Linked DNA regions of Homo sapiens. The protein of the gene in region 2 interacts with the protein of the main gene of each other region in a pairwise test. Each region holds a gene or a part of one and is shown on either strand. Other genes may lie near its edges. The genes, in order: RNF34, DNAJA3, FAM131C and SMAD9.

What was found.
Region 1: the proteins of DNAJA3 (region 2) and RNF34 interact in a two-hybrid assay, tested with the Homo sapiens proteins (one study listed by BioGRID).
Region 3: the proteins of DNAJA3 (region 2) and FAM131C interact in a two-hybrid assay, tested with the Homo sapiens proteins (one large-scale study listed by BioGRID and IntAct).
Region 4: the proteins of DNAJA3 (region 2) and SMAD9 interact in a two-hybrid assay, tested with the Homo sapiens proteins (one large-scale study listed by BioGRID and IntAct).

The regions. Positions count from the first base shown.
Region 1 is NC_000012.12:121,400,230-121,407,650, reverse strand, and holds part of RNF34 (E3 ubiquitin-protein ligase RNF34), read right to left. Parts: intron 5,613-7,421; exon of another isoform or gene 5,556-5,612; intron 4,910-5,555; exon of another isoform or gene 4,853-4,909; coding exon of another isoform or gene 4,844-4,852; intron 2,803-4,843; exon of another isoform or gene 2,538-2,802; intron 1-2,537. UniProt on the Homo sapiens protein: E3 ubiquitin-protein ligase that regulates several biological processes through the ubiquitin-mediated proteasomal degradation of various target proteins.
Region 2 is NC_000016.10:4,426,707-4,434,127, reverse strand, and holds part of DNAJA3 (dnaJ homolog subfamily A member 3, mitochondrial), read right to left. Parts: intron 1-7,421. UniProt on the Homo sapiens protein: Modulates apoptotic signal transduction or effector structures within the mitochondrial matrix. Affect cytochrome C release from the mitochondria and caspase 3 activation, but not caspase 8 activation.
Region 3 is NC_000001.11:16,065,361-16,072,781, reverse strand, and holds part of FAM131C (protein FAM131C), read left to right. Parts: intron 1-7,421.
Region 4 is NC_000013.11:36,908,492-36,915,912, forward strand, and holds part of SMAD9 (mothers against decapentaplegic homolog 9), read right to left. Parts: intron 1-7,421. UniProt on the Homo sapiens protein: Transcriptional modulator activated by BMP (bone morphogenetic proteins) type 1 receptor kinase. SMAD9 is a receptor-regulated SMAD (R-SMAD).

The DNA.
Region 1 (7,421 bases), on a different chromosome or scaffold from region 2:
CCATACTGATAGTAAGATTGAAGCATCTTCTACAAACCACTCCATTTCCTCCTAGATTTTGAGAAAACTCAATTCCTGGAAAGACAGCATACTAGGCGTAGCCCTTGGGCTTCCGAATTTGCAGTCAGTTCACTGAGTTGTTGTATACTAGGCATATGCCTTTGGCTTCTGCATTTGCAGTCAATTCACTGAGTTGTTGTATACTAGGCATACCCCCACCTCTGGCTTCTGACAGTATACTAGGCATACCCTTTTGGCTTCTGAATTTGCAGTCAATTCACTGGCCTCAATTCCAAAGTGGTGCCTTCTTTATGGAAGGGTCACCATCCATTATTTGTTCATTGGGGGAAAAAAACCCTACAGTTACTCCTCCGTGAATAAAGCCCAAAGCCAGATCTCTGAAAAGTCTGGAACTTTCAAAATGCAAGCCATGATCTGGGCTTTCATGACCTACTTGGGGACCTTAGTTGGCAGCAAAACTCCATGGGTTATACCACATGCATCCAAGTGGTATGTAAGAAGTATAACCCTTTTTCTAACAGTTTAGAAAGAACAATAATCTGGGGGGAGGGGGAAGGAGGGAGGAAAGGAACAAGGGGTGAAAAACTAACTGTTGGGTACTGTGTTCACTACCTGCTGGCGGGACCAACTGTACCCCAAACTTTAGCGTCACTCAATATACCCATGTAACAAGTCTGTACGTGTACCCCCAAATCTAAAAGTTGAAATTATATTTTTAAAAAAGAACGATAATCGTGAAGATAGCTAAATTTCCTCTCTTGACCATGAATGTAGTTTAAAACAACATAGAGAATAAGAGAATGAGGCAACTGTCTGCCTATGCCTAGCACAAAACTCCAAGCTCAGAGAATTCACCTGTGTTTGGAGTTTATTTTCTAGTCATCAGTGATTACTAAAAATAAATGACTTGTTCTTGATAGTCTAATCCCTTTCCTACCCACTCTCTTAAGCCAAAGCTGCTCTCAGTAGAGCCACCATAGGACCATGGTCTGCCTGGCTTATATCAGTTAAAAACCAGGTATCGTATTTAAAAACTTAACACCAGCCCGGCGCGGTGGCTCACGCCTGTAATCCTAGCACTTTGGGAGGCTGAAGTGGGCGGATTGCTTGAGCTCAGGAGTTCGAGACCAGCGTGGGCAACGTGGTGAAACGCCATCTCTACTGAAATACAAAAAATTAGTCAGGCGTGGTGGCAAGTGCCTGTAGTCCCAGCCACTGGGGAGGTTGAGGCACAAGAATCACTTGAAATGGGAGGCGGAGGCTGCAGTGAGCTGAGATCACGCCACTGCACTCCAGCCTGGGCGACACAGCAAGAGTCTGTCTCAAACAACAACAACAACAACAACTTACACATTCCATAATAAGAAATCAAATTCTAAAACCTGCCTGGACTGCCTCAGACACCTAGATATCCTCATGTCATTCTGGTATCCAATGCCAGTTCTCCTCTTTTCTTCAAAGACAGTGCACCAAGATTTTAGGGAGCCAGTAACAGTACCTTTTTTCCACATCCAATTTGGAGCTAATTAAGAAATAAGACAGGCCGGGCACGGTGGCTCATGTAATCCCAGCACTTTGGGAGGCCGAGGCAGGCAGATCACAAGGTCAGGAGATCGAGACCATCCTGGCTAACATGGTGAAACCCCGTCTCTACTAAAAATACAAAAAATTAGCTGGACGTGGTAGCAGGCACTTGTAGTCCCAGCTACTCAGGAGGCTGAGGCAGGAGAATGGCGTGAACCTGGGAGGCAGAGCTTGCAGTGAGCCGAGATTGCACCACTGCACTCCAGCCTGGGCAACAGAGCAAGACTCCGTCTCAAGAAAAAAAAAAAAGAAATAAGACAGAGGCCGGACACGGTGGCTCACGCCTGTGATCCCAGCACTTTGGGAGGCCGAGGCAGGAGGATCATCTGAGGTCAGGAGTTCCAGACCAGCCTGGTCAACATGGTGAAACCCCGTCTCTACTAAAAATACAAAAATTAGCCAGGTATGGTGGTGGATGCCTGTAATCCTAGCTACTCAGAAGGGTGAGGCAGGAGAACTGCTTGAACCTGGGAGACGGAGGTTGCGGTAAGCAGAGATTGCACCACTGCACTCCAGCCTAGGTGACAGAGCAAGACCCTGTCTCAAAAAGAAAAAAAAAGCAAGAAGACAAATGGAAATTAAAATGTTTGTTTTTACTGATAGCATCAACTGGAGAACAGAACCTTAGCTCTGTAGCCAAGTCTGGATAATATACAGCTGACCAAGAGCAGCTTACCAGCTAGTTGAGTGGAGACCAGAACTCCATCTTCACTACAGGAAGACAAATGTGAGAAGGTCCCAGAAAGTACTGAGCCAAGCATGTCAGTTCCTTCACTGAAACTCCTCAATATTCAAGTCCCTCTTTTTCCTCCCATAGCAGAGACTGACAGTGTTTCTCCCATACTGTTCCCTCCCCAAAAATGAATTAGAAGCCCCCTCCCCTCTGTAGGAGCAAAGGAGAGGAAGCAAATGGGAGGGGAAAGAATACAAACCTAAATAATCTGCGTAAGAGTAGGAATGACAGTTTCCAGCCAATAAGGTTATAAGGACTCTCTCAGGTTCCTCAGTCAGAGTCAAACAATATAAGCCCATGAAACATCATTACAGTCAACAAAAGCAAGAGGAAAGGTGTTCTGTTTCTTTGCAAGAGCAGCAGCCCAGCTCTCTTTCTGGCACAGTGCCAGGATTTTCAAATGGCCTCAAGGTTCAGCTGTCTTTGCTTCTGTGTGTGTATAATCTAATATGTTTTCAGAATCCCTGTGGGGAGAAAATACTTCAAAATGCTCAATTTAAAGAATTCACAAATTTACCACAAATTTTCAACCCTAAACTTTTAATGATTCCATTAAATATATTATCAACCAGCCAGACTAGAACGAAGAATCAGAAAAGCTATGGTAGTTTCCATGAAGATTAAATGACAGGCTGGGCGCAGTAGCTCACACCTCTAATCCCAGCACTTTAGGAGGCCAGAATCACTTGAGGTCAGGAGTTCAAGACCAGCCTAGCCAAGATGGTGAAACCCGGTCTCTACTAAAAATACCAAAAAAAATTAGCTGGGTGTGGTGGTGCACAACTGTAGTCCCAGCTACACAGGAGGCTGAGGCAGGAGAATCACTTGAGGCGGAGACTGCAGTAAGCTGAGATGGTGCCACCGCACTCCAGCCTGGGCAACAAAGAGAGACTCCATCTCAAAAAAAAAAAAAAAAAAAAAAAAAGATTAAATGACAGCCAGACACAAGAGAAGTATAGGGGGAGAGTGGGAAAAGAAAGTTTATGAGTATGAAAACAGACAACTAGGCCAGGTGCCATGGCTCAAGCCTGTAATCCTAGCAGTTTGGGAGGCCAAGGCAAGTGGACTGCCTGAGCTCAGGAGTTTGGGACCAGCCTGGGCAACATTGTGAAACTCCGTCTCTACTAAATACGAAGAAAAAAAAAAAAAATTAGCCGGGCATGGCAGCTACTTGGGAAGCTGAGGCAGGAGAACTGTTTGAACCCGAGAGGCAGAGGTTGCAGTGAGCTGAGATCGTGCCACTGCACTCCAGCCTGGCGACAGAGTGAGATTCCATCTCAAAAAAAAAAAAAAGAAACAGAAAACTAAATGATCTAAGTCATTCACTTTTTATTAAACTAGGTAAATAGCAAGGTAATAATAATGCCATAGACTCTTCTCGTAAGAGTCTATCTTGCTTGCCAAAACTCTAATATGTTACTACACAGTCATTCACTTTTTATTAAACTAGGTAAATAGCAATGTAATAATAAACCCATAGACTCTTCTCATAAGCGTCTACCTTGCTTGCCATAACTCTAAGTTAAATATATTATTTACACAGTTATTTTAAGGATGAACCTAGAAGTTTTAAATTCAAAAATAATTGTCTCAGATGCTACATGAATCTACAAGGACCAAGGAGCGATACTGTTCTTCCATCAATGAAAGCTTCCTCAGAGAACTCACCCACTATATGTCCAGGGTTTGTTTCAAACTCTGGACAACCTTCAGTTTGCTAAAACTCAATGTCCTGTGTTAAACGACAGGAAAAAGATGTATTAAATCTTAGCAACGGTGATATAAAATAATCGGTTTTACAGTTTAATCTTGGTTAGGTTAAACTTTCCTACATAACTAAAAGCAAAGCAGAAAAAACAGTTGATAAAAAAGCAAAATCTTTATCCTTTTTTTTTTTTGTTTTGGTTTTTTTTTTTGGAGACAGAGTCTTGCTCTGTTGCCCAGGCTGGAGTGCAGTGGCGCAATCTTGGCTCACTGCAAACTCTGCCTCCCGGGTTCACGCCATTCTCCTGCCTCAGCCTCCAGAGTAGCTGGGACTACAGGCGCCCGCCACCACATCCAGCTAATTTTTTGTATTTTTAGTAGAGACAGGGTTTCACTGTGTTAGCCAGGATGGTCTCAACCTCCTGACCTTGTGATCTGCCTGCCTCGGCCTCCCAAAGTGCTGGGACTACAGGCGTGAGCCACCGCGCCCGGCCTCTTTATCCTATTTAGAGCCATTTGAGAAACATATGCTCCTTAGAATGTGAAAGGATTTCTTATCAAAACTGCTGCTTCAACTGAAATACAATATGCAGGGACCTAACTCTTTCTTAGTGACCAAATATCCGACCATATACCACAAAGGAAGGAATTCTACATCCTAAATTATTTCTCTCATACCATTTGGACATTAAGCAGGTTGCAAAAACAGATGATGAACTCTAAAATGTAATACTTTTAGACAAGACATTGGCCAAACTGATCGATTATTACAATAACATGTGCTATAGATACAAATGTTACCTTCCTCATGCTTGGGTTTTTGTTTTCTTTTAACAGTATACTTGATCCTTAGTACCACTCCCCCACCTTTCAGAGAAAAAAAAAGGAAAAGGAATTACATTCAGTAGATTACTTTCTCCTTGATATCTCATTTTGAGCTTGGAAGAACCCAGATTAGCACAATTAATGGTGAGATCAATATAAATAAGGAAAAATGGGAAAGAGGATTAAATCAAATTAACACAGGGCACCAATTTGGATTTTTTTTTTTAATCCCTTATAGGAAGTTGATTGGATGTTACTGCAAGGTTAAAAAGTTACTTGAGTCTGAGAGGTAAGACCTATTTCAAAACATCAGTTTCTAAACCAAACCAAACCAAACCAAACCAAAACGCCAAAGGGAGAAAGTAAATACCCATTCCGTACATATACTAAAACCAGCTGCTCCAGGTTTGAGTGAACATGTACTTATCCATATAATTGCTTAGCTTTTCTTGTTTATTTTTAACTGCTTAACTTTTTTTTTCCTTTTTTTCTTTTTAAAATAATTTTTAATCGAGACAGGGTTTTGCTATGTTGGCCAAGCTGTTCTCGAACTCCTGACCTCAAGTGATCCATCTGCCTTGGCCTCCCAAAGTGCTGGGATTATAGGCGTGAGCTATTGCACCCGGCCAGGTATACTTGCTTAGCTTTTAATGTAATTTTAATTCCACAGAAAGAAGTATTTCCTTACATGAACATTCACATGTTAGCATTCCATGACATCAGGAATCAGTCTCTGCCCAGAAATCTACAGATGAGCATACCCACAATTAAACAATTTCAATATAAATCAACATTAAGTTAAATAATAAACATTTAACAGCCCAAATCCTCAATGGTGTAAATCCAGTTTCACAAAAACAAAAGCATCATTTATAACTGTCATCTGGCACAGGCTGATGTCTATTCAGGTCCATATTTTGCTTCTGAAAATACGTATCTTTTCTATAATTTCAATTGCCACCAAACTTTGTTTCTAAAATTTCATCTTAGAAAGTAGTACCTTCCACTTCAATTCAAAACACACGTCTGTTTTCAAAGAACTTGTTTAAAAATTTCAACACTGGACCTGTCTCTAATTCTTTCCTTCGATAGCTAGTTCCTTAATGGGCCACAAATTTAATATTAATAAAGATACTGATTCTTCGAGGCATTATATATAAAGATCCCTGCTTTGTTTTTGGATCTTAACACAGCAGAGGGTGGTTTTCAGGAAATAAAGCTACTTCTAGATACTTTAATAGATATTTCAAGCTGTAATAATATTTTATAACTAAACTGGAAAGTTAAAAATAAGCTTTTACAATATCCTCATACTTCAAGGCACAGTTCCAAAGTTACCTATTCCAAAAATATTCCTTGCTTTCTGTAGCCAGAAGTATCCTTTCTGGCTCCTGTGTTTTGTCCCTGCCTTTTTTTTTTTTTTTTTTTTGATACCTATAGCCTTCTGCCTTGTAATATGGTTACTTACAAATAACTCTTCTTTTGAATGGTAAACTGCCTTCCTAAGGGATGAGACTGTATTTTGAATTACTTCTCTTCACCATGTCTCCCTCTTGGCTAACGCACAGAAAACGTTCAACAAAACATGTGCTGAATTTCTGTGACCAGCTGACACTCTTTTTCAATCTTCTATAGTAAATCTTTGACGCTTTATGGAGACAGCGTTAATCTAGCAGCTCACCTGCTAGATTACCCACCCCCAGCACACCTCTGCACTGAGATTAACGAAACCATCTAGGTCTGAAAGTTATCATCACCTTATGACTCATCCCACTTGGTTTGAGTTCGGCAAATGAATCAATACCCTGAACTGACTGCTGTTCACAAAGCTCTTCAGAACTCTCAGTGATCGGGTTGAGAATCATCTCTCAGAAGTAGGCCGGAAACCCCGCTCCCCTTTCCCCTTTTCTTCAACTTCTCATCAGTAATGCTCCCACGCTCTCACTCCCACCTTGGAGAACTCAAGCTGCCAAATTCCTTGCTGCGTTTACCTAGTGGCGATGGAGGCACATCCAGCCTTCTCTAGTTCGCGGCCCCGACGTGCAGCCTACGAAGCACCCCTTCCGGGTGGCATCCCCACCCTGAGAGTTCTTTAACCCGTTAGCCTGGCCCTAGCCTCACCACCCCCTGCACCCCTCCTGTTCTCCTCGGTCCCACGATGTCCCCAACACTTGGGTTAGTTCAAGGACTCGGGGCGGGAAAGGGCACGCCGCGCGCCAAGGGACCGAGGCTCAGGCGAGCCCTGGCGGCTCTGCCTCAGGCCCCCGAGGAGGCGCACAGGGCCCGGCGCAGAGAGGGGCCCACCCGGCGCGAACGCTAGGGACGCCCGGCTTCTCCCCACCGCTCGGGTCGCTGACGGGGGTGGCACTGGAGGAGCTCGAGAGGGTCCGGCAGCCTGCCCTGGCTCGGTTGGGGCACCTGAAGCCGGGCAAGCGACCCCCCTCAGCGCAGCTCTCCGAGATGACGACTAGGTAACCGCTAAGGCGGAAAGAAAGGAGGCGCTTCAGGTGCCCTGGCAGGATAGGATTGGCGAGGAGGGTCTGTCCGGCTCCAC
Region 2 (7,421 bases):
TCTGATAGTTTTATGAGGGGCTCACCCTTTTGCTCATTCTTCCTGCTGCCATGTTAAGAAGGATGTGTTTGCTTCCCCTTCCGCCACGATCGCTGAGGCCTCCCCAGCCGTGCTGAACTGTGAGTTAAATAAACCTCTTTCCTTTAAAATTTACCCAGTCTTAGGTATGTCTTTATTAGCTGCATGAGAACAGACTAATACACAGGCTACAGCTTTAGGGCTGTTCCCTAATGCACTTCAATAATGGCTAAGGAAGCCACAGTATTCAATTAATATTAAACTATGTCAGAGTATTGGATGAGGCTGATTCTCCTCGCTTATACTACTGGAGTGGTCTCAGTAAACCACTAAAGGAATAATACTCCTGACTGGGAGATGATTAAAAAGGGATTCAGCTCCCCCCTCTTATGCCACATGAGCACTTACCATTTGCTAGGTATTTTCATATTTTCATATTTTTCTGTCACATTTAATGCTTAACAACTCCCCACATTCTTTTCCCTCTATCTTGCAGCCTTGGGTATCTACTTAAGGAGCAGTTCTCAAGACTGCGCTCCCTGGACCAACAGCATCATTAGACTGATGAAAACACAGATGTTCAAGCCCTACTCCAGACATTCACCAGAAACTCAGGAGGTCTCCACCCACTAGATGCCAGTAGAGAACTCCCCGTCTCCAGGCATTGCCAAATGTCCCCTGGGAAGTAAAAGTGTCCCCTGCTGAGAACCAATGACAAATCAATCTAAGAAGGTCGGGGAAGAACTTCTAGGCATCAGCTGTTAAGCTGCAGAAACTGGCTAAGCTGCCCAGGAAAGCATTTGCCACTTTCAGTGGAAAACAAATGGCGGTTACTAACTAGGATGACTTTGTACTTTGGATCTGGATTCACAGCACCTTTTTTAATAGCAAGACACCAACTGCTTAAGAAACAAGGATGTTTTAGTTCATCCACTTAACAGATAGGAAGAGCAGGTTTTTTGTTTTTTGAGATGGAGTCTCGCTCTGTCGCCCAGGCTGGAGTGCAGTGGCGCCATCCTGGCTCACTGCAAGCTCCACTTCCCGGGTTCACGCCATTCTCCTGCCTCAGCCTCCCAAGTAGCTGGGACTACGGGCGCCTGCCACCACACTCGGCTAATTTTTTCATATTTTTAGTAGAGACGGGGTTTCGCCGTGTTAGCCAGGATGGTCTCGATCTCCTGACCTCATGATCCGCCTGCCTCGACCTCCCAAAGTGCTGGGATTACCGGCGTGAGCCACCGTGCCCGGCAGGCTTTTTGTTTCTTTGTTTTTTGAGACGGAGTTTCGCTCTTCTTGCCCAGACTGGCGTGCAGTGGTGCGATTTTGGCTCACTGCAACCTCCGCCTGCTGGGTTCAAGCGACTCTCCTGCCTCAGCCTCCCAAGTAACTGGGACTACAGGCGTGTGCCACCACGCCCAGACTGGAGGTGTTTTAATAGATGAAATCTGTTTAAAAAGTGAATAAGCCGGGCCGGGTATGGTGGCTCCTGCCTGTAATCCCAGCACTTTGGGAGGCCAAGGCGGGCGGATCACCTGAGGTCAGGAGTTAGAGACCAGCCTGACCAACATGGAGAAACCCCATCTCTACTAAAAATACAAAATTAGCCGGATGTGGTGGTACATGCCTGTAATCCCAGCTAGTAAGGAGGCTGAAGCAAGAGAATCGCTTGAACCTGGGGGGCAGAGGTTGCAGTGAGCCAAGATCGCGCCATTGCACTCCAGCCTGGGCAACAGGAGTGAAACTCCATCACAGAAAAAAAAAAGAAAAAAAAAAAGAAAGAAAAATAAGCCTGGGCACAGTGGCTCTCGCCTGTAATCCCAGCACTTTGGGAACCTGAGGCGTGAGGATCGCTTGAGCCCAGGAGTTCGAAACCAGCCTGGGCAACACAGAGACCCTGTCTCTATTAAAAATAAATAAATAAATGGATCAAAGACTTGAACTTATATGACATACTAGATGTTTGTAAATAAACTTATGACATGGAAAAAAAAGAGAGAGAGACAGAAATAGGCTAAAGAGGACTTTGAATCCATACAGATTTATACCTATAACTAAACTAGATGGCAGTGGTGGTAGTGGTGGTTAGAGATGATAACGATTAATGGGGCCTAGGAATAGGAAGGGCCTTAGAGCTATGCTAAGGAGTCTGGATTTTATCCTAAGAGCAATAGGGAGCCACTGCAAATGTTAAACAAAGAACCCATTAGGTTTGCATGAGAAACAACTCTAGGCCAGGCAAGGTGGCTCACGCCTATTGTAATCCCAGCACTTTGGGAGGCCGAGGCGGGTGGATCACTTGAGGTCAGGAGTTCGAGACCAAGCTGGCCAACATGGTGAAATCTTGTCTCTACTAAAAATACAAAAATTAGCCGGTCATGGTGGTGCACGCCTGTAATCCCAGCTACTTGGGAGGCTGAGGCATGAGAATTGTTTGAACCTGGGAGGCTGAGGTTGCAGTGAGCCAAGATCGCGCCATTGCACTCCAGCCTGGGCGACAGAGCAAGACTCCACCTGAAAAAAAAAAAAGAGAAACAACTCTAGGAAGCCTGGGAGACTACTCGAAGTTAATCAGCACAAAACACAACCAGAGGTTGGTTGAGCACATCCAAGTAGGAGGCCAGGTAAAGGATGATCAGACAGGAGAATGGATAGGAATGGTCAGGATACTTAAAATTAGAAATAGGAAATAAATCCGTGTGTTTGGCACACCCAATATCCTCGGGATACAAAAAGCACACTGGAAGTAGTAGGGGTCAGGAGACCACTTTGTGTTTCTTCAGTCAGACTTGAGAAAACACTAGACCTGACTTATTATTGAACTTGTACTCAACCCTCTTTTTATTTCGGAGTAAGGGGTTGCCCGGCCCAGTCCAGCCTCTCTCTCACCACTCATTCCAATGCCACAAGGCGGAGGCTGGTAGTGACCTGTGGCAGCTGTGGCTTCAACATTACGGGCAGAGAACACGGACAGGAGTTAGTACAGAGATAGTAACGCACAAAACTGCATGTGGATAAAGACAAATCACGTTTAATTACAAGACTGATGGCTTTGTTTTTTCTTTTTTTGAGACAGAGTCTCACTCTGTCACCCAGGCTGGAGTGCAGTGGTGTGATCTCGGTTCACTGCAACCTCCATCTCCCAGGTTCGAGCGATTCTTCTGCTTTAGCCTCTCAAGTAGCCAGGACTATAGGCGCACACCACCACACCTGGCTAATTTTTGTATTTTTAGTAGGTAAGAAGTTTCACCATGTTGGCCAGGCTGGTCTCGAACTCCTGACCTCAAGTGATCCGCCGGCCTCATCCTACCAAAGTGCTGGGGTTACAGGCATGAGCCACCATCCCCAGTCTGATGACTTTTGACATTATCCATAGGGCATCAATGATTAACAATAATTAGATTTCATTTAATAGACTATTTATTTTATCACATATGACCAGTAAATGTCCTGTCCTTTTTAGAACAACCCAGAATAAAATAAGCCTCCAAGTCGTTCTAAGAATGGCCAACCCACTGTCCAACAACTGCTTTCTTTTTTTTTTTTTTTGACAGGGAGTTTGGCTCTTGTTGCCCAGGCTGGAGGGCAGTGGCGCGATCTCGGCTCACTGCAACCTCTGCCTCCTGGGTTCAAGCGATTCTCCTGTCTCAGCCTCCCGAGTAGCTGGGATTACAGGAACCCGCCACCACGCCTGACCAACTTTTTCTATTTTTAGTAGAGACAAGCTTTGGCCATCTTGGCCAGGCTGGTCTCAAACTCCTGACCTCAGGCGATCAACCCACCTCCCAAAGTAATGGGATTGCAGGCATGAGCCACCATACCTGGCCACCAACAACTGCTTTCTTTCTGCTTGGAAGAAAAGTCACATCTAAAATGTTGTTATGTCATCTTACTACTAGATTTGAGACAAGATCACAGACTAGTGTTTGGACGCTGAGTTAATGACCTTTTCAAAATTTTTTTTTTTAAGAGACAGGGGTCTCATTATGTTGCCTAGGCCAAATTCAAATTCCTGGACTCCAGCAATCCTCCCACCTCAACCTCCTGAGTAGCTAGGACTATAGAGGCTCGCCACCACATGGCTTCTCAGTTGATGACTTTATTAATTTTTTGGTAGAGAAAGAGTCATACTCTGTTGCCCAGGCTGGAGTGCAGTGGCATCATCATGGCTCACTGCAGCCTCAACCTTCTGGGCTCAAGTGAAACTCCCACCTCAGCCTCCCAAGCAGCTGGGAGTACAGGCAGTTGCCACCATAGTTGGCTAATTTTTTTTTTTTTGAGACACAGTTTCGCTCTTGTTGATCAGGCTGGAGTGCAATGGCGCTAACTCGGCTCACGGCAACCTCCGACTTTCACGTTCAAGCAATTCTCCTGCCCCAGCCTCCCGAGTACCCGGGTTTACAGGCATGCGCCACCAGGCCTGGCTAATTTTGTATTTTTTGTAGAGACGGGGTTTCTCCATGTTGATCAGGCTGGTCTCAAACTCCTGACTTCAGGTGATCCGCCCGCATAGGCCTCCCAAAGTGCTGGGATTACAGGCGTGAGCCACCATGTCCGGCCACAGTCAGCTAATTTTTAAAAATCTTTTTGTAGGCCGGGCGCGGTGACTCACACCTGTAATCCCAGCACTTTAGGAGGCTGAGGTGGACAGATCATGGGTAAAGAGATCGAGACCATCCTGGCCAATATGGTGAAATCCAGTATCTGCTAAAAATACAAAAATTAACTGGGAGTGGTGGCACGTGCCTGTAGTCCCAGCTACTCAGGAGACTGAGGCAAGAGGATCACTTGAACCCAGGAAGCGGAGGATGCGGTGAGCCGAGATCACGGTGAGTCAAGATCATGGTGAGCCGAGATCGCACCACTGCACTCCAGCCTGGCTACAGAGCAAGACTCCGTCTCAAACAAACAAACAAAAAAAATCTTGGCCGGGCGCGGTGGCTCACACCTGTAATCCCAGCACTTTGGGAGGCGGAGGCGGGTGGATCACGAGGTCAGGAGATCGAGACGTCCTGGCTAACACAGTGAAACTCCATCTCTACTAAAAATACAAAAAATTAGCTGGGCGCGGTTGCAGGTGCCTGTAGTCCCAGCTACTCGGGAGGCTGAGGCAGGAGAATGGCCTGAACCCGGGAGGCGGAGTTTGCAGTGAGCCGAGATCGTGCCACTGCACTCCAGCCTGGGCGACAGAGTGAGACTCCGTCTCAAAAAAAAAAAAAAAAAAAAAAAATCTTTTTGTAGAGATGGGATCTGCCTATGTTGCCCAGGCTGGTCCCAAACTGCTAGGCTCATGTGATCCTCCTGCCTCAGCGCCAGCATAGCGCTGGAATTACAGTCGTGAGCCACCCCGCCCAACCAGTTGATGACTCTATCTGTGAAAACAGCACGTACCCTGAAGGATGCCACCTCTCACCTGTGTACACTACCTGATATAAAACTTGCCCATGGCAGGTTATGAGCTCACTTGGGGAACAAGACAGCTAACCGCAGTTCCTTAGTCACAGCTTCACACAAAGCTTAGTGTTTAGTGCCTGTTTCTCTCTTTCACATACACAATAATAACGAGTGCTCCCAAATTTGTACAGCTGGAACATGAACAAATTTGGCTTAATAAAACAAGTCACCTAAGGATTAATATTTGAATGAAAAGATGCAGCCAGATTCTATTTAAAACAACCTTGACATTAGAAAATGTTAGCAAGCTCTAAAAATGGCCACTTTTGCTCATGTTGAAAAATCTAGCCTGGCATGGTGGCACACACCTATAAGCCCAGCATCTTGGGAGGCTGAAGTGAGCCAGGATCACATCACTGCAATTTGGCCTGGGCAACAGAGCAAGAGTCCATCTCAAAATAAAAATAAGGCCGGTCGCGGTGGCTCAAGCCTGTAATTCCAGCACTTTGGGAGGCTGAGGCGGGTGGATCACAAGTTCAGGAGATCGAGACCATCTTGGCTAACACGGTGAAACCCTGTCTCTACTAAAAATACAAAAAATTAGCTGGGCGTGGTGGCGGGCGCCTGTAGTCCCAGCTACTCAGAAGGCTGAGGCAGGAGAATGGCGTGAACCCGGGAGGCGGAGCTTGCAGTGAGCTGAGATAGCGCCACTGCACTCCAGCCTGGGCAACACAGCGAGACTCCGTCTCAAAAAAAAAAAAAATTCATTCTGTTGGCCAGGTGCAGTGGCTGATGCCTGTAACCCCAGCACTTTGGGAAGCTGAAGCAAGGGAATCACTTTAGCCCAGCCTGGGTAACATGGTGAAACCCCATCTACAGAAAACTAGCTGGGTGTGGTGGTGCATGCCTGTAGTCCCAGCTACTCAGGAGGCTGAGGATGGAGGATCGATTGAACCTGGGAGGTCAAGGTTGCACTGAGTTGTAATTGTGCCTCTGCACCAGTCTGGGCAACAGGAGGCCCTGTCTTAAAAAATAATTAAATACATAAATAATCATTCTCTTAACCAAACACACATCCAATCTCTTTGTTCTCTGCCATCTCCTCAGTGCCCAGAACAGTGGCTGGCATACAATTGGCCTCAATTAACACCTGTGAATGAATGAATTTTCAGACAGGTGCTCGAAGGGGTTAAATAATACACCCCGCTCACAGACGCTGGGGAAGTTCACCCCTGAAGCCCAGGCTCTTTTCTTTACATTGCATGAAGTAACCACAATTACTGATACTTTAATGATTGTCTACTATGTAACTATTACAAACTGGATTGCAACAGGAAGTTAGTTGGTATAAATTATCTTGTCAGGGCCCTTTAATTAATCTTTATAAATTTATAGATAGCTTAAATACCATTTGCACAAATTCTAGAGGACACAAAACTAGCACAATTCAGGTACGTACAACACACAGCACAAAACACACGGCATAAGAAAAGAAGGCTAAGCAGGGCACGGTGGTTCACGCCTGTAATCCCAGCACTTTGGGAAGCCAAGGGGAGGCGGATCACCTGAGGTCTGGAGTTTGAGACCAGCCTGGCCAACATGGCGAAATCCCGTCTCTATTAAAGATACAAAAATTGGCCAGGCGTGGTGGCGCATGCCTCTAGTTCCAGCTACTGGGGAGGCTGAGGCAGGATAATCTCTTGAACCCAGGAGTCGGAGGTTGCAGTGAGTCGAGATTGAGCCACTGCACTCCGGCCTGGGCAACAGAGCAAGATTCAGTTTCAAAAAAAAAAAGAAAAGAAAAGAAAAGAAAACATGACTAAGCACTTCAAGGCTTAATGTATAATTCAGTGTCATCTCAGGCAATGATATCAAGCCTCCACCTCCTTGTGACATTTATAAGTGGTTTAACATCTAAGCCTCAGTATCTTTATAAAATGGAATAACAGTGCCTATCATGTGGAAATGTGATGTAAGGGGAAAACCATGCCTGGCCAACAGTAAGTGCTCAA
Region 3 (7,421 bases), on a different chromosome or scaffold from region 2:
CCCTCCACTCTCCCCCACGTGGTACCCAAGGAGGTGGAGGGGACCTGCCCTTGCCTGGGGGCCCAGGGCAGGCCCCAGCCTCTTCTATCTGTGAGGAGGGGACACACAGTCTTGCACAGAGATTGGGGGATGGGCAGTTTGGTCTTTGGAGCCCCCTACCTCCACCCCCACCCATCACCACCAGCTTTCCAACAGGCTGTTGGGCAACATTTTAGACAAGCGATTGGGCTGAGCCCTTCTCCCACCTTGGTCTGTTCACCCCACAGTGGGATCAGGGGGGTGTGACTGGGAGTGGGGGTGGCTTTGGCCTTGGTTCAGGCTCTGCAGGCTGAGGCCAAACCCACTGACCACCACCACACCCATCACCCCTAGTAGCTTACCCAGAATAGAGGGGACCTTGTCCTGGGGGTATTGAGCAAGGAGCACAATGACCTTCCCCCATCCTCTGGACTCGAAGGGCTTCTGCTCAGGAGTTCCTGTGGGCATTCAGGTAAGTGGCTCAGGATGTCTCTGGGAGGTATCGGGGTGGAATCCCGGCTGGGGAAGGGGAAGGTACAGGGTCAGGCTGTGTGGGGTTCCTTTACTTATCCATGCATTAAGCTGATATTAACATGATAGCTGCCGTGTGCCAGGCACCGTGTGCATGCTGGGCATCCAGCAGCAAGGAACCCAGCACAGCACCTGGTACGGGAGGCCTGCAGCCTAGCGGGAGGGGAAGGAAGTTTGAAGAGTGAGGAGTGCTGAGGGTTCTTTAGGAGCACCAGGCTCCAGAAACCCCAAAGGTTCTAGGCAGTCTCTGGCTGGGGCCAGCTCCAGGTGGAGGGGATCTGAGTGTTTCCTCAGTGTCCCTTCCCCTTCACTTGGCCACCCCATATCAGGCACCTTGGGGTCCCAGCCCAGAAGGACTGGCCTTTGAGCTGAGAACCCACTGAGCATGGGACAGAGGCCGGGGAGGAAGAGACGCCTGCTAAGGTCACCCTGAGAGGCTGGGGCCCAGGTCCTCTGACCCCACACCTGGGGCTCCCTCCACCGCCCCCTCTGCCAGGGCTCTTTGGGGCCACAGCAGCCAAGATACGCTCTCTCCACCCTTCCTTCTGCAGCCTGGGCTTCCTCAGCGCCCCCCAGATCTAATTGTATAGTCCAGCCTTGTCCCCCTCCTGAGAGGACGGGGCCCCTGGCAGTCTCAACATGCATCCAGGAAAGTTGGGTTGAGGTGAAAGGAATATGGGGAGCCATGTGGGCAGGGGACAGCCAGGGTCCCAGAGACTCTGGGTGGCTGCATCACTGACCCACCCTGCCCTCTCCTTATCACTGATGCTCTCCGAGTGCATACTAGTCTGAAAGTTTTAGGCAGATAAAGCTAGTTTGGGTTATATATGAACACAGTCCCTATCTTACAAGTGGGAAAACTGAGGCAGAGGGCAGTGGAGTGACTTGTCCAGGGCCACACAGCTAGGATAGTATAAGCCAAGATTTAAACCATGGCATGCTGACTCCACAGCCTAGGGCCTCAGTCTCTGCACTCACAGCCAGCCCTCGGCCCTGGTGCCTGCACCTGTCTACTCTCCTGGAGCTGCAGGCTGCTGTGGGCTCCTGAGCCCCCCACCTGGCCCCTGCACCAGCAATCGATTGCTAATCATAGCCTCTGAGCGCTCAGTGCCTCCTAGGCCAGGTAGGCACTGCTACAGAAGGAAGGGTGGAGGGAGTGCGTCCACCCTTGGCCAAGGCCAAGGATTGCAGGCCTCAGGCTGATGCCCATACTGAGCCCAGAGCTTGCACCCAGCTGGGGCCACCCAGCCAAACCCCAAAACCTAGGTCAGGCCACACCTGGGAAAATCACCCCATCCCAGCATCGGCAGCAGTTAGCGTCTGCCTAGTTGGTAGAGAGGCTAGGAGTGCAGAATACGAAGCAGGGCTCCACCATTTACTAGCTCTGTGACCTCAGCAAGTGACTTGACCTTGTGTGTGTATCTCAGTGTTCCCATCTCTAAAATGGGAATTATAATAGTATTGATGTCATAGGGTTGCTGGGCGGACTAAATGGCTTAATTCATGTAAGGCATTCAGACCAGTACCCAACACATAGTAAGCACTCGTACATATTAGCTATTGCTCTCATTTTTACTTTTAATTTTAATATTGTATATATTATAATAGAGACAGGCTCTCACTATGTTGCCCAGGCTTATCTCGAACTCCTGGCCTCAAGCCACCCTCCCACCTCGGCCTCCCAAAGTGCTGGGATTACAGGTGTGAGCCACTGCACCCGGCCTTTAATTTTTATTACCTGTCTGTGCAGACAGCTAATGTGGGCCTTCATGGCTGGAAGGGGAAACCTACAGAGGTTTTAAGCCACATCCTGCCTCATGGGAAAGGCAGCGGGTGGCAGGCACTCGAGGTGCTGAGGACATTGAGAAAGTGATTGGGACCAGATTAAGGCAACAAATGCTGTTTCCAGGAGCTATTTTGCATTCATTATCTATTTTTAAGCTACCGTTTGTTGAGCGCTTATCCTGAGCTAGGCTGAGCCTTTGCTCTCCTGACCTAGTTAGTTCTCATTCAACCCTGTGACAAGGGATGTGGGGCTCAGAGAACGGGAGGGTCTTCCCTCAGGTCACATGGCCAGGGCATGGAGAGGCAGGACTTGAATCCAGGTCAATGTGACCCCAGAGCCTGAGTGTGGAAACCCCGTCCTTTGCTTTCTTACGTCCCTATAGAGAGAGAGGTGCTATGGCTCACGCTTATAATCTAAATACTGGGAGGCTGAGGCGGGAGGATCGCTTGAGCCCACGAGTTCAAGACCAGCCTGTGCAACATAGTGAGACCCCATCTCTACAAAAAACTTTTTAAAAATTACCTAGCTGTGGTGGTGTGTGCTGGTAGTCCCAGCTATTTGGGAGGCTGAGGCAGGAGGATGGCTTGAACCCAGGAGGTCGAAGCTGCAGTGAGCTGTGATTACTCCACCGCACTCTAGCCTGGGCAACAAAGACCCTGTCTCAAAAACAAAAAGAGGTGCTAAGTATATGGCCAGTGCTTAGAAAAACAACCTCTTGGAACACTTGAATGGTCCCTATTTGTTGGGGGCTCTGCAACCAATGGCAGTCTGTATGGAACAGAGAGGAATATTTGCCCCCCTTCTCTCCAGTTCCAGGGGCTCAGTACCCGCTCCATGCCCTTGGTGCCATAACCACTCTGCCTCCTCACTCATGCCCCAGCCCTCTCCTCCAGGCCAACTGATCAGCCTCCTGGCCCCACCTTGGGGGTATCCAATGCACTGGGGGCCGGTGGGGTCGGGGGTGAGAGTAGAAATTAGAGACCGAGAATTTTCTTCTGGAAACTCAGACATCTGATCATGTCTGGGTGAAGGCACAAGCTCTAAGGGGGCCGACCAGAGCCACCCATAGTTTCCAAGTCCTGAGCAGTCCTACACCAGGCACTGAGGAAAGGGTAGGTGGGACCTTGCCCTTCGGGAGCTCACAGTCTGATGAGAGAGGTACAGCTTTGCCCGTGGAGTAGCCTAATGGGGGAGGCAGTATGCATGAACCCTTGGAAGGATGCCCCGAGGACCCTGTCTGGAGATCAGCACTGTTTAGTGGTTGGGGCACAAGCTTTGGAGTTTCACAAGGGCCGAAGTGTGACCCTCATCTCTGCTGCTTATTAGCAGGTGACCTTGCATAAGTGATTTATCCTCTCTGAGCCTCCGTTTCCCTATCTGTAAAATGGGCATAACATGTACTTTGCAGGATTGTTGTGTGGGTTAAATGAGAGATCATGGGTGAACAGGCCTAGGACAGACAGTACCTGACACAGTACTGTCACACCTGCTCAGTAAACAGTGGCGGCAAATCACTGCAGGCCAGACTTTGGCCATTAGGACCACAGGTGAGGTACCTAATCCAGCAGAGGCCAATCTGGGCAGGTTGCTTGTGGGAGGTGAGGCTGGAGCAAGATGTTCCCAGAGGCCAGGTCACAGGATGGGAGGGAGCCTGGGGAAGGAAGTGGGGAGGAGCTGGGGTGTGTGGAAGTCCTGGGGAGGAGCCCATTTTCTCTCTCCATCCTTGCACGGGGAGAGAAAGGGACCCCCTTGGATAGCTCTGAGCTGAGCCAACCCACAGATGAGCTATTGTCACGGCTCAGGTGACCTGTAAACAAATGTCCTGGGGAGGAGGGGACACTCAGTCCACTCGAGGCCTGGCCTCTGCCAAGCTCTGTGGCCTGCTCCCCTGGCAGTGACTCAACAGGCAGAGCGGCCAAGGACTCACCCTCAAGGGCTTCCCTCTGCGGAGCCTCCAGAGCCAGCTCCAGCCCTGGGGACAGGACCAGAGGAGTGGCTGACCAAGATGTGTCCCATTGTCCAGAGAGAGACACTGAGGGGAGAGGGGTGGAGCGGCTGCTGCTTACGGACTGCTTGCTGTGGCAGGTGCTTCCTCCTTGCTGCAGCCCTTTCTGGGCTGGTATTATTTCACAGATGAGAATCCAAGGCTCACAGGGGCTAAGTCCCATGCCCACCCCCTGCAGCGGAAAGTGAGAAGCGGGGACTTAAACCCAGCTCAGGGACCGTAAGAGGAATGCCTTGGCCGCTTACGTTCTCTTCAGAGCCAAGGGCAGAGCCCGGCACATCACAGCTGGGCAGTACACACCCGGGCAATGGTTGGCTAGAGGGGCCGCATCGGCTGCAGGTGCCCTGAGAAGCTGAGCAGAGAAGCCCGAGGCTGGCCGGGGAGGAGCATGAGGGGACGCTTTGACCCCAGGCTGCTGCTCAGTTTCTGTGTGGTTTTGAGAGGATATTTACCCTCCCTGGGCTGCTGCAGAGTCAAACACGGTCCCTCTCTGCCCTCTGGGGTGCAGAGCCCTGGGAGGCACTCTTGGGGTAGATGGCAACCATGGTGACTAATGGGTTGGGACACGGAGCCCCAGAGAACAGCTTAAAGGAGTTGGAAGGCCCTGAAGCAGACGAGAGGAGCCTGAGGGGTTGTGCTGCAGACTCACCCAAGGATCAAGTAGAGAAGACCAACCAGTATGGGAACTGCAACAAGAGGGGTTTAGGCTAGACATCAGGAGGAACTGTCTGGGAGGTTAGACTCTAAAGCAGATTGAAGAGGAGCTGGCATAGGAAGGCAGGAAGCACCCTCAAGATGCAGAGGAGAAGCTCTGGTTGAAGACAGAGGGATGGAGGAGACATCTGGTTGACACCCTCTCCTTGAAGAATCAAGATGGCCCTCTCCAGGTTGCCATGGCAGCCAGAAGCCTGTCACTCTTGTGGACAGAGGAGGTGGGGGAGGGAGCAGGTCTGAGAAGGGAATTCTGACCTTGAGGTCAGGAGACTAGGGTGTGGACTGAAAGAAAGGGGGTGTCCTTCTGGGAGAGGGAGCCACAGGAGCAGGTGCTAGCGGTCCCTTCGGGCTGCCTCCCAGCCCCCACCCCACATGACACTCTGTGTTTTTCCAGTTGCCAGTGGTGACGTGACCACCAGTCCCAGCTGGGCGAAGAACAGCCTGTGATTTCACCCTGGGCTGGTTCATTACCTGACGTCCCCATGGCAACCAGCCTGTGACATCATGGGGCCAAAGTCCTCAGGGGGAGCAGGCAGCTTTGGTGGAGGCACCTGAACCCCAACTGAGGTGGGGAGCCAGGCGGGCTGGGGAGGGGGTGGGAGCCAGGAGTCCTCCAAGCCCACCACCGTCTCAACAAATGACCTTGTTCAAGTCATGCCTCTGCCAGGCTTTGGCATCACCACCAGCCTCCTCTGTGCCCGGCTCCCCTCCCCATCAACCTCGCTCCCTGGTCTGTGGCTGGAGAGTTGTAAAAAAGCTTCAGGGGATGGCCAGGGGTCCTAGAAATACCCTAACACCTCTCAAGTTCCTAGGGTCAGCCTATGGCCAGAGCCACCTGTCTGCACCTTGGCGGGCCCTGGCTTGTACAGGACATGCAGAATTTCCAGAACCTCAGGATTGGCAACTTGCAAACTTTTTTGACTGGACCCATAGGAATAATATATTTTGCATCATGACCCAGAATACACACAGAGAAAATTTTTACTCTGTGTGTGTTGTGCACACACATCTGCACAGACTTGTGTTTGCATAAACAGAAGCTTCATAAAGTAATACTTAACCTGACTTGCAGTGGGCTCTGATATTTTCCATTCTATTCCATTCTATTTCATTAAAATAAGACCTAATTAATAAACGGCTGCATGACCCACTGAAATATGCACCCCCAGTTTGAACATTGCCTTTGAAGGGCCTGGACAACATGGCCTTTGTGGAAATGGAGGCCTTGGAGCCCAGAGAGGGGCAGGACTAGCTCAGGGTCACACAGCAGGGACTCAGGAAAAAGAACAAGATGAGCTGAGTGCTATGGTGTGCAGGCGCACGGCTCAGTCCACAGGATCCCGTGCTGCCCCAGGTGCTCTCACCTCCTTAGGCCTGCCTGGGTCATGGGTGGGGTGGTCAATAAGATCTTTCCTTGGCTCCAGTCTCTGCCTCCAGCCTCCTTGACTAGCCCACCTGCTTACCTTTGGGTGGATCCCAGAAACCTACGGTCTCTTCTGCAAACTAAGTCTAATCCAGTTGGGATGAAAACTTGAATCTCAGGCTGGGCGTGGTGGCTCATGCCTGTAATCCCAGCACTTTGGAAGGCCGAGGCAGGCGGATCGCCTGAGGTCAGGTGTTTGAGACCAGCCTGGCCAACATGGTGAAACCCTGTCTCTACTGGAAATATAAAAATGAGCAGGTGCCCATAATCCCAGCTACTCAGGAGGCTGAGGCAGGAGAATCGCTTGAATCTGGGAGGCGGAGGTTAGAGTGAGTCGAGATCACGCCACTGTACTCCAGCCTGGGTGACAGAGCGAGATTCTGTCTCCAAAAAAAAAAGAAAAGAAAACCTTAATCTCACCTCCAACTGAATGCTTACCTTCCCCCTGCCAGCTGCCCCTGAAATGAGGATTTGGGTACAACTGATATGAGGTGAACCTTCCAGAGGAAGCCAGTAGGGAATGGAGCGAGAGGAGGATGGAGGAGGCCAGCCAGGCAGTGGGGTGGTCTCAGGCCTGGCCTCAGCCTGGTCCTGCAGGGTACTCCGGAGGGTAAGTGAAGGGGAATTTTCGGATCCCAGACAAAAGAGCTGGGGTTCTGCACCTGGTAGTCATTGGCTTGGGGCCACTCTGGGTGGGGCCAACAGAAATTTACCTAGGGCAGCCCCTGTAGAAAGAGCCACAGGTGGTGCCTCTTAGAAGCCATGCAGGGCGCCAGGGCAAAAACAGGAGAAAGGAATCCAGGGGAATTGGGGGCAGCACCCACATGGTCCCCTAACCCCAGTGACACAATCTGGCCTAGAGCATTAAGTCCCTCCGCTGGCGGGCAGAGAGTGAGCGCAGGGACCATTGTCTTCCAGGGAGGGAGGATGCCTGCAGCAGGGGA
Region 4 (7,421 bases), on a different chromosome or scaffold from region 2:
TTTCATAAAACTGACTTTAGGATCCCTCCTGGAATAGGAATATAACAGAATAGAATCTACTACATAAAAATATTATTGGGTTAAGTGAATTTACCTTACAATACACAACTAAATATGAGAATATTTGAAGTTCATTTTAAAAATACATCATCATCACTCCTGAATTTGGGTATACTGTGGCCCAGAGGAAGTGACATAATAATCGCATCTGATAAAATAGTCAAAAGGAAAAAAAAGAAGTGAAAATAAAAACAAATTAGCAACTAAACAACTAATTATGGTGGGAGGAGAAAGAACACACACAATCTCACTGTAAAATCAGAGACTCTCCAATAACGGCTGGATTTTTTATATTCACACTGAATTTCACATGAAACTGAAGGCCATGACTACAAGGGATATATGTGGCCCAAATGAAGACTCTTGGTTTACCAGGCAGCCTTGTGCTCATGGCAATGAAGTACTATGGTAAGCAGATGTCACTGGAATTTATACTTAATAAGCCACTTGGGAAGCCTTGGTCTACATTTACTTACATCCCTAAAATACAGTTCTCTTGGCCACTCGTACAGTTTTTTTGGCTAGAATGTTACTATTGATTGGATATCATTTTTAAAGTTTCAACGGAGATTTTGAATTATTTTTTAAATTAAAGAAACTAGATACAGTTTTTATTGTTGCTCATTATCACTTCTTTGGAAGACAGAACCACTATTCCATTGCCTGTTTGCTATGTAGTGAAAGGGAAGTAGAATGGGCATTAAAGCAGCAAAGACAGGAGTCTAAAGGTCATGCCCAATAGTTTGGGTCACTTAAGGTAGGTTTAGAATGTTCTATATTTTTCCATGTAATAGTCTGAATATTAAGATCATATTTAAACATTTCAGTGATAAGCCAACATAACAGTGATACAAGAGAAGGCCAGCACTACCTTGTAGAGATCATGGTGTAAGTTTCTAGTATTGCAACCTACATTCTTTACACATACGTAATAAACTGTATATAATTTACACACACATATAGTCAGCATATTCTTGGAAACACTGTATGCCACCCCACAAATGTGTTATTTTATTATTTAAGTTTGGAAGGGCCCACAATTTAATGCTTCCAGAAGCAAGAGGCAACATGATATAATGAATAAAACACAAGAATGGAGGAAGAAGACTCCAGTCTGAGTGCTAGTACCATCACTGTCATCTTCAAGTAATTAGTCACTTCCATATTGTTTCCTCCTCTGTAAAATGGAAACAATAGTCACTACCTTTTGTGCAGAAGTACTGAGGGGATGTGAGAGAAAGCAGTTTGAAAACTGTAAACTAAGATAATATTGTATATTACCAACATGGAGGTATACTTCTGTTTATTCCTCCTGTAGGCTTCACTGTGGGAGTTAAGAGGTGCCCCAAAAATTAAAAACAACCGGCTGGGCGCAGTGGCTCACGCCTGTAATCCCAGCATTTTGGGAGGCCGAGGCGGGTGGATCACGAGGTCAGGAGATCGAGACCATCCTGGCTAACACGGTGAAACCCCATCTCTACTAAAAATACAAAAAATTATCCGGGCGTGGTGGCGGGCGCCTGTAGTCCCAGCTACTCAGGAGGCTGAGGCAGGAGAATGGCATGAACCGGGGAGGCAGAGCTTGCAGTGAGCCGAGATCGCGCCACTGTACTCCGGCGTGGGGGACACAGCGAGACTCCGTCTCAAAAAAAAAAAAAAATTAAAAACAAGCTCTTTAAACTAAAATTTAACCACCATTGACTCCAGGATCCTCAAATACACTATGTTCAAATGTAGAGATGGAACCATAGTGAATATGAGAAGAGGGAGGGATGAAAACACAGACCACAGAGAATTTGCAGGGCAATGAGACGACTCTGCCTGATACTACCATGGTGGATACACGTCATGATACACTTGTCCAAACCCACAGAATGTACACCACCAAGAGTGAATCTCCCAAATTTCTACTCTGAGTCTGTATCCATACATTTTACACTTAAAAGCCCACTAAATATCATGAGGTGGGGGTTGTGAGTTGACGCCTGTAACATCAATTTCAAATAAGGCTGTTCGCAATCTGGCCTCCCCAGACTACATTCCCAGCCTCATCTCTTTTCACTCCCTTTGCCCATCACTCCTTCCCTCCCTGCCCAGAAGGCCCCTGTGCAGCTCTATCTTTCCTGCTCCTTCTTCAAAACAGAGCTGGAAGCCAACTTCCTGGAAACCTTCCCTGGAGGCCCCCAGGCAACAGCACTGATCAGCTCTCTGCTGCTCCTCTGGGCTTCCACAGCACCTAACATGTGCTAGTCACTCACAACAGCACTTACCACACTTGAATCCCCAGATTTGGTAAGTGTTTTCTCCAGAGATGCCTAGCCTTCTATCAGGCCACAAGCCAAGCCACATTGTGGTCTGTACTACCTACCTAGCATGCAGGAGGCCATCAATAAATGTTGAATGAATGAAAGTAAAATCCAGTTTTATCAATACCATTAACTATTGTATTATTAATATTATTATTACTATTTTGAAAAAGGGTCTTGCTCTGTCACCCAGGATGGAGTGCAGTGGCGTGATCATGGCTCACCGCAGCCTCAACCTGCCAGGCTCAATAGATCCTCCCCCTGCAGCCTCCTGAGTATCTGGGGCTACAGGCACGCCCCACCAAGACCAGCTAAATTTTTAAAATATTTTTCTCATAGAAGGGTTTTCACCATGTTGTCCAGGCTGGTCTCAAACTCCTGGGCTCAAGCAATCTGCCCCCCTTGGTCTCCCAAAGTGCTGGGATTACAGGCATGAACCATTGCACCTGGCCAACTATTGTATCATTAAGCCCCATGTAATTAATTGAAGTTCTAACCTAAAGCCCATTGCTTTACTAACGCAATACAATAAATTTCTTTGAAAGACAGAATTATATAATGCATTCCCTACTTCCTATGCATAGTCTATCTACTTAAGGTAATATTATATAGAGCATAATCTGTCTGAATACTTGTAAAGTATTAAATGACTATAAATCATCTGTTTAATATATATATTTTTAATGATGTGTGGGCAATTTTTAAAATTTTATAGATGTGTGTCTCGAGGAAGGCTGTTTCCCGGCCAAAGGCTGCCTGGGGGGGGGGGGGGCGGGTGGAGTTCATAAACTGATAAAGAATCACAAATAAGCCGTGTTATGAACTGCTGTTCGGGGAAGCTCAATTTATTTTTTATTTTTTATTTTTTGAGACAGAGTTTTGCTCTTGTTTCCCAGGACGGAGTACAATGGCACAATCTCAGCTCACTGCAACCTCTGCCTCCTGGGTTCAAGCGATTCTCCTGCCTCAGCCTCCCCAGTAGCTGGGATTACAGGCATGTGCCACCACACCCAGCTAATTTTGTATTTTTAGTAGAGATGGGGTTTCTCCATGTTGGTCAGGCTGGTCTTGAACTCCCAACCTCAGGTTATCCGCCCACCTCAGCCTCCCGAAGTGCTGGGATTGCAGGTGTGAGCCACCGCACCCAGTCGGGGAAGCTCAGATTTTTATTTGCTAAAGAGAAGCATGAAGCAGTGGAGATGGTGTGTCAACTGCTTAGCTAGGAGTTGTGGCCATTTAAAAGCATGCAAACCACTTGAATTTGTCTTCACTCTTCCAAATACCCCTTTGATTATGTGATTCTTCTGTTCAAACCATTTAATAGTTATCATGACTACGGGTTAAAATTGAATAGTTCTCCTTTGCCTACAGATTAAATCCAAATTCCTTGCCCTTCCTTCCACCTTACCCTACAAAAACCAACCTATTTAGGGAAGAGAAAGGTGGGATCGTTGAAAACCCAACATATTTAGGGAAGTGAAAGGTGGAGTGGTTCAAGTATCAACAATGAAGTGGACACTACCCTAGCAGCTGAATATTTCAAGATAAGACATGGTCCCTTTCCTCTATACTACTATTGAGACAGCAATCTAAACATATTATTATCAGGCAAGTAATAGGTGCACTATTACAACAGTTACTAGAAGAGTGTATTCAAAGTGGTCTGGAGGCCCCTGGCTGGCTAAAAGGGTTGGGTGGGGTTTCCTATAGGACCAGCCATGCAAACTCACTCACCCTTGAACCAGTAAAGGGTAGCAGGGAAAAACAGGAGGAAACTGTACAAAGGCTGGATCCTCCTCCTGACAGACTCAGGAAGTAGTGAAATTCCATGGCCTAGGGATGTTCTCAGCATCTCTAAGTTCTCATAAGGACTTACTGAAAGAATCTCTTCCTGTTTATGTCTTCTATTTTACCTCTACCTTCTAGTTTACCTCCCAAATCCCAAATGAGATCATTCTCATTATCCTTGACAAGACTAACTAAAAATTCACACACAGAAAATACGGAAGTCTAATCAGGAAAAATACAGTCATCCCCAGGTATCTATGGGGGATTCAGTCCAGAATCCCCACAGACACCAAAATCCAAGGATGCTCAAGTCCCTCGTATAAAATGGTATATTTGCATATAACCTACCACATCCTCCCTTATACTTTAAATCATCTTAGCTTACTTATAATACCTACTATACTGTAAATGCTATGTAAATGGTTTTTATATCTTATTTTTTATTTGTGTTATTTTTAATTTTTTCTCCAATATTTTTCATTTGTGGTTGGTTGAATCTGTTGATGCAGAAACTGCTGACTCACAGGGCCAGCTGAATAGAGAAATAAACCCAAATAGATTACAGTTTGGGGAAGTAAGACATCTTACTATTGGAGAAATATTTTAATATTTGCTTTCTTGATCTCTTTCACGCTAACTACACTATGAAATCCTGGAGACTAGGATTTTATTTTTGTCACTTCATTTCGTTGTGTAGTCCCCAGGGCCTGTTCTGGGGCCTCATAGGCAGGGTAGACACAATAGACACAGAGTAAATAATGGTTGAATGAATATCCTATACAAGCCCCATAAATTTACAAGTTCCACCTTCTAAAGTGATTGCTACACCCACAAAATTGCAACACTTTAAAACCCCAAGATATAATCAATACAACTTTAAAAAAATAAAGTGTATTTAGAATATCTTGTAATAAAATTAGATGCAATGACAACAGAAAGCAAGTAAAACTGCCACTCCTTTGAAATAATACCAACTTGTCATTATTTGCAAACACAGCCAACACCTAATGACTGCTTTGTGTAAACATATAGTCAATAAGCTGAAAGGGAAGCATTCATGTCCATAAATGTTTGTCTTTGACAAATATTTTATTCAACTCCTATTCCTAAAAATAAAATTCTACTTCCACTAGAAAACAAAGAATGACTAAATGCATAAACAAGACAAAGAAAACCACATGAGACCTAAAATCTTTTTAGCTTAACACATTTTTCATCTTCCACATTCATTACCACCATTCTTGGCTTCTAATAATCACTTATGTCATTAATAATAATCACCCATATCATCAATCACTGGTGGTCTTGCTTTATGAACAAATGGTGTTCAATCCTGCATAGTTATTTGGAAACTGGAATTCACCTTCCCCTAGAACAATGTCATGAGTGCTAATGTACTTCCCTGGCCAGCTCACTAGGATCCTCTCAACTCACAACGCAGGTGCCTTTCATACTACTAACACTAATTCAAATATGTGATGTCTACCTTTGGCATCTGCCAATCTGCTTTCTGTAACACCCTCTTTCCACACTTAGGTGCCTCAAACTTCTCAACAGTGCTACTGCCCAAGCCTTAAAATGACTTACTCTCGGGCCAGGCGCGGTGGATCACGCCTGTAAACCCAGCACTTTGGGAGGCCGAGGCCGGCGGATCATGAGGTCAGGAGATCGAGACCATCCTGGCTAACATGGTGAAACCCTGTCTCTACTAAAAATACAAAAAATTAGCCGGGCGTGGTGGCAGGTGCCTGTAGTCCCAGCTACTTGGGAGGCTGAAGCGGGAGAATGGCATGAACCCGGGAGGTGGAGCTTGCAGTGAGCCGAGATGGTGCCACTGCACTCCAGCCTGGGCGACAGAGAGAGACTCCATCTCAAAAAACAAAAACAAAACAAAAAAAAACTTACTCTTCCTTCTTCCTTCCTCACTCCTCCTCTCAGCCAAACTCCAATTCTCTCACTGTGATTCTCAGCAAAGAAAGGAGCAAGATGAATTCATGAACTTATGATGAAGTGTACTGATAAGAGATGTCAAATATTCTGCCACAAAGTGGGAAACTGATGGAATCTGTGAATCCCTTTCTGCGTTACCATTAACTCCTGAAATGTGGTACTACCAAGTCAGTTAAATTTAGATACAAGAATTCAGAAAGCAACTCCTGGCACTTCAGTTGAACGCTACCATCCATCAAATGCTTCTTAAAAAAGACCTGCAAATCTGCTGTAAGCTTTCCATAGCCCACAAGTACGTAGGACAAAATCCTTTAGAATGACATTAACCATTGCACAATTATTGCGTTTTGTGAAAACAAATCAAAATACACAGTAACCAAAGTAAATCTGTATTTGATAGGCTTCTAAGCACTTTAACAGATGAAAAGTAAAAAACAGGCTGTATGGAAGAAGATATTCCATAGATTAAAGCAGTCATTTAAGGCAAATGGCCCAGTGTATCTAGGGATGTGCTCCTGGGGTCAGTGAGTTCAGGATGTGGCTACCTCACAGTGTTCACACTTCTACTACTTGCAAACTCTAAGTCGTCAGAATCCTCAACTCAGAATCCCCAATGTCACCAACACGTTTGAATGGCCGCAAGACCACATGTATGCTATCCAGATTCCTTTGTTCAGTGATAGAAAACTGGCAACTGGAGTCCTAGAATGAATGGGCATCCCTGGCACTCCTAGTGCTTGTAAACTGAAGATTGCTTTTCGCAACTGCAGCACCAAACTCTCCTCGGGACTGAGGAGTACATGTTTTCTATTTATAGTCCCTCAGAATTAAATATGAAAAAGAAAAGGAAGTGATCAGATATTAAGTATTAAATTTCCCCAAGGGGAAATTCACATAAAAATAATCCCCACCAGTGAATCAGCTAATCAGAGTACCAAAGAATGAGACAAAGAGAGAGAGAGAGAGAGAAGATTTTGATATTTAATATCTAAAAAAGAGGAATTGGAAATTGTCATTATAGGAAAAAATCAGAACTACATAGGTCTCCTTTACAATTATTCTTTGGGTTAAACTTTTTTCTTTGAATTAAATGTGGGCTGGGAATGAGGGGGAAGAACCATAATCTCTTCAGTGCTTATGACTTCTAAAGTGTTACAACCGTGTGCACACACATATACAATCCACCTTAATATTTATGCCTTTTATTTTAAATTCTGAATTTAAATTTTATATTGGGAGTCGTTTTGATTCTTGAAAAATGCGTTTTGAGCTGATTAGAGCTTCCCAATTAAAACGGTACAACTGAATATATTATAT